2 linked regions of the Homo sapiens genome follow. The protein of the gene in region 2 purifies or fractionates together with the protein of the main gene of each other region. This does not show direct contact. Each region holds a gene or a part of one and is shown on either strand. Other genes may lie near its edges. The genes, in order: RMND5A and ZCCHC2.

Region 1 (3,819 bases), on a different chromosome or scaffold from region 2:
AGCCATTAGCCAGGTATGGTAGCATGTGCCTAGAGTCCCAGCTACTGAGCAGGCTGAGGTGGGAGGATGCCAGGAGGTTGAGGCTGCAGTGAGCCACGATCGTGCCACTGCACTCCAACCTGGGCAACAGAATGAGACCCTGTTTCAAAAAGTAAAATATAAAGAATTTCATAATAATCTTACATTAGTGCCAAAAAAGGTTTTATATTGCACAAAACAACTGGATTTAATGGGCTCAGCTTATCAGTCAAATGACATGCTTGCTCCTGAAACATTTTTTTTGCATAGTTCCTCTTATCCCCAGATCACCCCTGTCCAGGGTGGAAGCACTCATTTCTCAGATCTGGAAGTGTTGGCAGCCAACTCTCAGCTGTGTCCGTCTCTTCAGGACTGTCCTCAGTTGAAGAGAGTCATCTGACCAGAGTCACATCCAGCAATTGCTCCATGTGAGGGTACAAAACCCCAGCCCTATAGGCCCAATTTGGGACAACTCCACGGGCCCACAGCAGCTCCAGAGCTCCTCACGGATGGGAGACACCTTGTTGCCACTCTAATACAGTCCAACTTTCCTCTCTGCCCAATCCTGCTGTTTTCATTCTCCCACAGGTGCTGATGTCAGTAAACTTTCTGCATGTACATTCCCACTTTAGAGTCTTCCTCAGAGAACTTGATGGCATCAGCGCCTCACATTATAGCTAATTGCATCTGTCCACTCCTACGCTAGGATGGAGCACCCTGTGGAATGCACCTTATTCATCTTCATATCCAACACAGTGCCCACAGTGCCTGGCACATAGCAGGTATGCAAAACATTTGTGGAATTAAATGAATAGAAGAGCTAAAAAAGAGTTATTTTCTTACAACAGTTTCTTAAAATGTTTTGGTTTCAGGACCCCTTTATATGCTTAAGTATTAAGGATCTCAAAGAGCTTTTCTTTTTGTGGATTATATCTTTAATACATTAGAAATTAAAATGAGAAACATAAAAGGTGCCGATTAGTTCATGTAAAAATAAAATACCATGCCATTATTGCAAACATTCTTATAAAAAAATAACTACAGTTTCCAAAACAAAAATATATGTGTGAGAAGAGTGGCACTGTTCCAAACTCTCACAACTCTCCTGAATGCCTACCTTAACAGAAAGACAGCTGGATTCTTATAGTTTACTCTGCATTAAATCTATTGTGATACGTTCTTCTGGTTGAGGTAAATGAAAAAAAACCTTGTTTCACACATATGTGTAGTACTACTTTGATCACTTTGGATCATTGTGGATACTCCTCCTTAATACCACACGAAAACTGACTTTTCATAGTTTTGGCCAAAACAGGTAGTAGTTTTCTAAAGGTTCGCTGCAGAGCAGAATCTGAAACTTTACCATTAAACTTTTTGTACCCTGCTACATTAAAATCCATTTGTCTGTCTTGTACTTTGAATGACTCTTTTACTCATGCATGCTTTTGTAAAATCATACTTAATTAAGACCTTTCAAATGTGACAGGCTTGCTTCGTTCACTTAAAAAAATGGCTGGGTGATGTGGCACACAACTGTACTCCCAGCTACTCAGGAGCCTGAGGCAGGAGAATCACTTGAGCCCAGGAGTTTGAGTCCAACCTGAACAACATAGCAAGAATGTCTTAAAAATTTAAGAAAAAAGACAAAAAAAAAAAAAAAAAAAAAGACTGCCAAAAACCTGAGTGTGCGTAACTATGTTAATGATTCTTCCAAGTAAAAACTATTCCAAGGCTGGTGCGGTGGCTCACGCCTATAAACCCAGCACCTTGGGAGGCCAAGGCAGTGGATCGCCTGAGGTCAGGAATTCGAGACCAGCATGGCCAACATGATGAAACCTTGTCTCTACTAAAAATACAAAAATTAGCTGGGCGTGGTGGCAGGCGCCTGTAATCCCAGCTACTCCAGAGGCTGAGGCAGGAGAATCGCTTGAACCCAAGAGGTGGAGGCTGCAGTGAGCTGAGATTGCGCCACTACACTCCAGCCAGGGGACAGAGGGAGACTCCATCTCAAAAAAGCAAGAAAAAAACAAGTAACAAACAAAACAAGTATTCCATGAAAAAAAGTGACCAGCTAGCTCATAACTCAAAACAACATACTTTTTCTCAAGACAATTACCATACTTTGACATGAAACTGAAGTGCTTTATGTGGATTTCCTATTTTGTCATACAAATTATTAAGATGATGTGTACTGAAAGGTCAAGATTTAATAAAACTAATAATTTTAATGTTTCACCAAGAACATCCTTTTTTAAAAAAGTTTTCTGTAGAAATGGAGTCTAGCTGTGTTACCCGGGTGGGTCTTGAATTCCTGGCCTCAAGAGATTCCCCCCACCTCAGCCTCCCAAAGTGCTGGAATTACAGATGTGAGCCACCACACCAGGCCAAGAATATTCTTTTTTTCTTTTCTTTTTTTTTTTTTTTTTTTTTGAGACAGTCTCGCATTGTTGCACGGGCTGGAGTGCAATGGTGCAATCTTGGCTCACAGCAACCTCCGCCTCCTGGGTTCAAGCGATTCTTCTGCCTCGGCTTCCCGACTAGCTGGGATTAAAGGTACCCGCCACCACGTCCAGCTAATTTTTTGTGTTTTTAGTAGAGGCGGGTTTCACTATGTTGGCCAGGCTGGTCTCAAACTCCTGATCTCGTGATCCACCCTCCTAGGCCTCCTAAAATGCTGAGATTACAGACGTGGTTAAGTAAAACTAGCATTTCTTAAACTGCAAGTGTGTGGTGGTGAGGAATCCAGCTATTCGTGGAGTTTGTACCACCGCCCCAACTTGTGCTAAGGCTCTAGCAGTTTAGTCCACCACTGTTTCTGGACCATCTGTACTAATGTCAATACAGTGGAAAAGGCTCTCAGGATCCTGTGAGGTTCATACACCACACTTTCAAAACTGCTTCTCTAAAACAGCATCACTGCCAATTGTGATATCTTTTGAAATACCAATTGCACTCTTCTTTGGAAAGACAAAAGTTATTTTGGCTTTAAACATCAAGAACCAAACAAGTTAAGGGAAGGTGATAATGCAGTGCATACTTCAATAACAGACAGGGCTAATTTCCATACCTGACACTGAGAGGGGACTCCACGGAGAGCCCCAGGAGGGCACAAGCATCCCGTGTAAAGATGTCACAGATATCAGCCCACTGGTTTGCATCAAGTAGGTGAACATATGGTGAGTTCTCAATCCCTTGTCTCAGGTACACAAGGCTTCCCATCAAAACCTGAATGTCTAAAAAAAGCACCAGCAAGAAAGCATTAGTTTGCTTGCAGTAATAAGCTGCGAAAAGCAAGAATACCCCCACCCATACTGATACAGCCTAAAATAATGTATTAACAGGTCTTTTAAAATTCTGGTCCTTAAGCTTGGTTTCTTCCTTCATCCTAAATTAAACAGCATGGAGAGAAAAGGGAAGAAAAGGAAAGCAGTGAAAATACTGAACTTATAATTTAAATTCTTCTCTACAGCATAGTATAATTACCATTACCTAGAGAAGTAACAATTATGTCATCACATTATCTCTGACTGCAGAGTTAATGTTTCCTACACAGTTTCGTGGGGTTGACAGTTGCCACCTTGGCTCTCTGACACTTTGCTGTGGCAAGAGCAGCAGCATACAGCCAGGTGGGGGTGGAAAAGAGCAAGTGCACACCTTGCTCTTTCTCACATCTCCTCTAAGTTTAATATGGAATTCCAAAATCTGCAACATCTCTGACTTCTAAGAGGCTTTAATATTTTTGTTTTTGTCTAGAGCCAGTCAGAACTTTTCCTGTAAGTGATTATCAACTACAACTGTTTA
Region 2 (4,374 bases):
CCTGGCTAATAAAATCACACTAACAAAGTTGATAAAGTAATGAGTCCTTTACACTTTTAGTGGCTAAAGGCCTAAACTGGAAATACGAGCTCAAGGTTGACAAGGACTCTGCCTCATTGCTACCATAGTGTTTGGCACGCAGCCGAGTACTCAAAACTCACGGAGTGCAGTCCCCCTTTCTCTAGTGGTCACGCAGATTACCTCTATATAAAGTTACTTGGGAGGCCGGGCATGGAGGCTCATGCCTGTAATCCCACCACTTTGGGAGGCAGAGGCAGGCAGATCACTTGATGTCAGGAGTTCAAGACCAGCCTGGCCAACATGGTGAAACCCCGTTTCTACTAAAAATACAAAAATTAGCTGGGTGTCATGGTACATACCTGTAATCCCAGCTACTCAGGAGGCGGAGGCAGGAGAATCGCTTGAATCCAGGGAGGCAGAGGTTGCAGGGAGCTGAGATCCCGCCACTGCACTCCAACCTGGGCGACAGAGCAAGACCCCGTCTCAAAAACAAAAAGGTTATTTGGGGGAAGAACTGAGGAGCATCCAGATGGTAAATAACTTTGGGATTCACTGCCCACCCTGCAGGGAAATGGATTGATCCTTAACCCCAAAATAATTACATACCTAAATAAAACTTTAAAAAAATCGCCATGTATGATGTCCTATCTCCACTTTTACAAAATTTACAATGAGGCACAATTCTTAAGCTGTTTTTCATTTTTTTATTGCTGTTAATTCAAGGAAAAAAGGTTGCATAAAATCCAATCTGTTCTAGAAATATAAGTGGCCTTTCCAGTACATAACATTTCAAATATCAAAGTATATGGTAAACATACAAATAAGGAGAAGGTAACATACCTCCTATGTACAGTACAGTATTTTAAATCATAAAATAAGCTCCATAAAGTACAACTGGCAAGTGATTCACAACGCGGCCCATAAGTGGCTTATCAAAACTCTCACTTGAACAACTCAACTGCAGCTTAACAATTAATTTAATAATGTGGTCCAAAAATACCCAGATCAAATAAAATATATTTAATCAAAATAATTTCCTTTACTTGAACTTTCTTTCTAAATTAAAGCTTTCATCTACCCCTTCACACCCACCCCTTCCCCATAACTCCCACCCCTGAAAGAAAGTTTCAAAATGTACATTGGTGCTATAAATATAAATGCTACTTATGAAGCATGAAATTAAGCTTCTTTTTTCTTCAAGTTTTTTCTCTTGTCTAGCAATCTGTTAGGCTTCTGAACCAAGACCAAATGTTTACGTTCCTCTGCTGCATACCAACGTTACTCCAAACAATAAAAATCTATCATTTCTGCTCTGTGCTGAGGAATGGAAAATGAAACCCCCACCCCCTGACCCCTAGGACTATACAGTGGAAACTGTTCATTGCTGATGAATGCAGCAGTCACCAAAAAATACACCCAATCTTCCAGATAACCTCAGTGCACTTTAGGAAATCAAAAATTACCTGGAAGCAATTTAGTACATAGATTGGCTTTTTAAAAAAACTTTTTTTTTTTTTTAAAAACAGCAGCATTAAACTTAGTGACATGACACCGACATGATTAATACCATCTTAACACACTCAGAATTCCGCCTTTCACATTATAATCAAGCATAGTGGTAAACTGTTATAAAAGTGACTTTGCTATGAGAGACAGGTTAGGGAACAAACAACCTGACTTATGGTAGAAACCCATAGCTCTGTTCAGATTGCAATAAACCATACACATTTTAAACACAACGTAACACTGTAACAGCTGGTACAGGGAAAGAAGAAATCTTCACTCAAGTAGTGTCTCTTTGAGCACAACACGGTGGTAGACAAGTAAAATTGGCTGTAGACTTTCATTACAAACACAAGCACACAGAGAGCGACATTCACACCAGTGTGTTCACTTTGTGTCTCTCTGAAGCAACAGGCTAAAAAAGGATGATGGAAGTAAAAAGTTGGTTTCAGAAAAAGCTTTTTGTCCATTTCGTACGTCATATTTTTTCAGTTTCATATGGTTTGACTTCTTCCTCTCTCTTCCACTTATTTTCATTTCTATTTGGACAACAAGCACTGCATATATGTATTTACGTGACGCTGTTTATTACATATATACACACTATTTTGGGAGTTTGATTCCTCCCATAAGATCAGGGTGAAACATTCTGCCCTTGGTTTATATGCAGAGCAGTTTACAAAAGTGGGGTGAATGCACTGCTGGCTGCTCCTGCTGCGGGCCGGAGACAGAGTGAGGCTGGCTGGGGAGGAAGTGTCGTTTAGGGTGAAAGTGAGAAAAGCTGGGAAGAAGCAAAATTTCTTTTTTTTTTCAAAACCATATGACTGTCACCAGTGTTGTAAAAAAAAGGTCAAATACACAGTTTTAAAGATTCAGTAAACATTGCACACAGCAAGTATTCAGTGTAAAAAAAAAAAAAAAAGCACGCACCAACATTTAAGTTTGTCTGAAGGTTTAAATTACATGTATCATACATATAAGCCTGTTGTTGAACCAGGAGACCAGAGGCTCAAAAGCATTGCATTCTTTCTTGTTTTGGACATTGGTACAAGAGAAATGAAAAATCCCAACTGCATAGAAATCTAGGAAATGTATAGACAAAGAAACAAAATACCTTTCCTTTCCTCCCCTCCACACCCCATGACTCCCCACACTTGAGTGTATTAAGTAGGCAAGCTTTACTCGTTTCAGTCTGCAGAATCCAACGTATCATTAGAAGGGGGGAGGGGAGGTGCGTATCTCAGTCTGTAAGTGCCTAAAATGGGAAAGACAGAACTAAGTCACCGCTTACAAGCAAACGTCATCACAAACCACTACGTACAAGCTATCACACGGGCATGCTCTCCACAAGGCACCTTCGTCAGCTCTAGTGCCACTCCAAATGGCCAATCCGCTCACTTTAAAAAGCAATGTAAAGTTTGTGCTTTGAATTCAATCTAAAAGCTATCAAACTTGATCTTTCTTTAAGAATGCCAAGTAAATATATTCCCAATTTAAGACTTTTTTTGTTTCTGGGTAAGATTTGGCAAAACGACAAAGGTCAAATGCAAGTGAAAATAACAGCCTGAAGTTGACATAAAATTTGGTATCTTACTCAAACATAGGTAAGACCATTTTCTTCTTTCTGGTGGTAGTAATATTAAACTTTGTTCAAATTCCTTTACTCTCAAATCAAAATAGTACTGAACTATTTTGTTCCTGTATTAATGCAATAGAATCTTGGACCTTTTTTTTTTTAACATTTGCTGGGAAGGAAAAGGGTAGCATGGGGAAACAGGCATGAGGCAGCTGGTTATGCAGATATACTAAATAGTTACTCAAAACCTAATGTCAGATAACTAAATTACTTCCTAGGTTTTCAATATTTAAAAATTTTGCTTACTCTATGAAACAGGATTGTAGCTTAAAAAAAAAAAGTGCTGCAAGCAAGAGATTTAACATTACAGAATGCAAATTCCCATCACACTCCTTCAAAAGGGCCTTTAGAGTTTATTCCTTAATTGGAAACTGAATTCCTCTGAACTTCCTTGTGCTCTGTGTGACCTGGGTCTACACTGTTTTTCCAGTTGCATTTTATGATCTGTCACTGAAAACAATATCCATAAACGAAAACACAAACAGATCTTTCTGCTACAACAGAATCCCATGATCAATAAGGAAAGGAAGGAGAAATGAGTGAACTCAAAAACAAGTCCTCTGGGAGTTATTGTGATTACCTTGTTGATTGGCCTCCATGGACGACTGCTTACAGTCCTGTGCATAGTGTCCGCTTACACCACAATTGTAACATGAGACATTCCCATTCTTCTTGGGCCCCGAACCACTGGTGTTGGCAACTACGTTAGGTGCTGGATATACAGGATAGAATCTCCCAAATCCTGCCATCTGCTGCATGCCATAGTTGGCTTGGCTCCCCATGACTGGGTCATGTACCAGTCCATTTGCATATGGAGTCTGAGGCAGAAAAAAAGGAAGTTGGTTTCCATTGCTCTGATGTGCTTGGTTGAGGTAGCTGCCATTGCAAATGGATGGCAGAGTAAAGAATGAAGGGACTCGGTACATTGGTCCAGGCATTGGATTAGGATAATAGTAACTATTTAGCTGAAGGTTTCCATTGGTCCCACAGCTGCACCTTCGCCCACAAGAACCACAAGGACCTGAGCCCATCTGCTGCGGTGGCACTACTGTCCCATTAGCGTTCGTGTTCCCCACAGCACTGATGTAAGAGGTGCTGTCACTCTGCGCGGTACTGTGTGTCAAGGCAGGGCTTGGGCTCGGGGCAGGGCCTGGGGTGTGGGTAGGAACTGCAGGAGGAACAGTTGCCTGGGCCTGGCTGATACCTGCGCTCGC

The links.
Region 1: the proteins of ZCCHC2 (region 2) and RMND5A purify together in Homo sapiens (co-immunoprecipitation; one large-scale study listed by IntAct). This does not show direct contact.

The regions. Positions count from the first base shown.
Region 1 is NC_000002.12:86,765,291-86,769,109, reverse strand, and holds part of RMND5A (E3 ubiquitin-protein transferase RMND5A), read right to left. Parts: intron 3,252-3,819; coding exon 3,086-3,251; intron 1-3,085.
Region 2 is NC_000018.10:62,574,917-62,579,290, reverse strand, and holds the end of ZCCHC2 (zinc finger CCHC domain-containing protein 2), read right to left. Parts: coding exon 3,741-4,374; intron 2,780-3,740; coding exon 2,712-2,779; 3' UTR 712-2,711; downstream 1-711.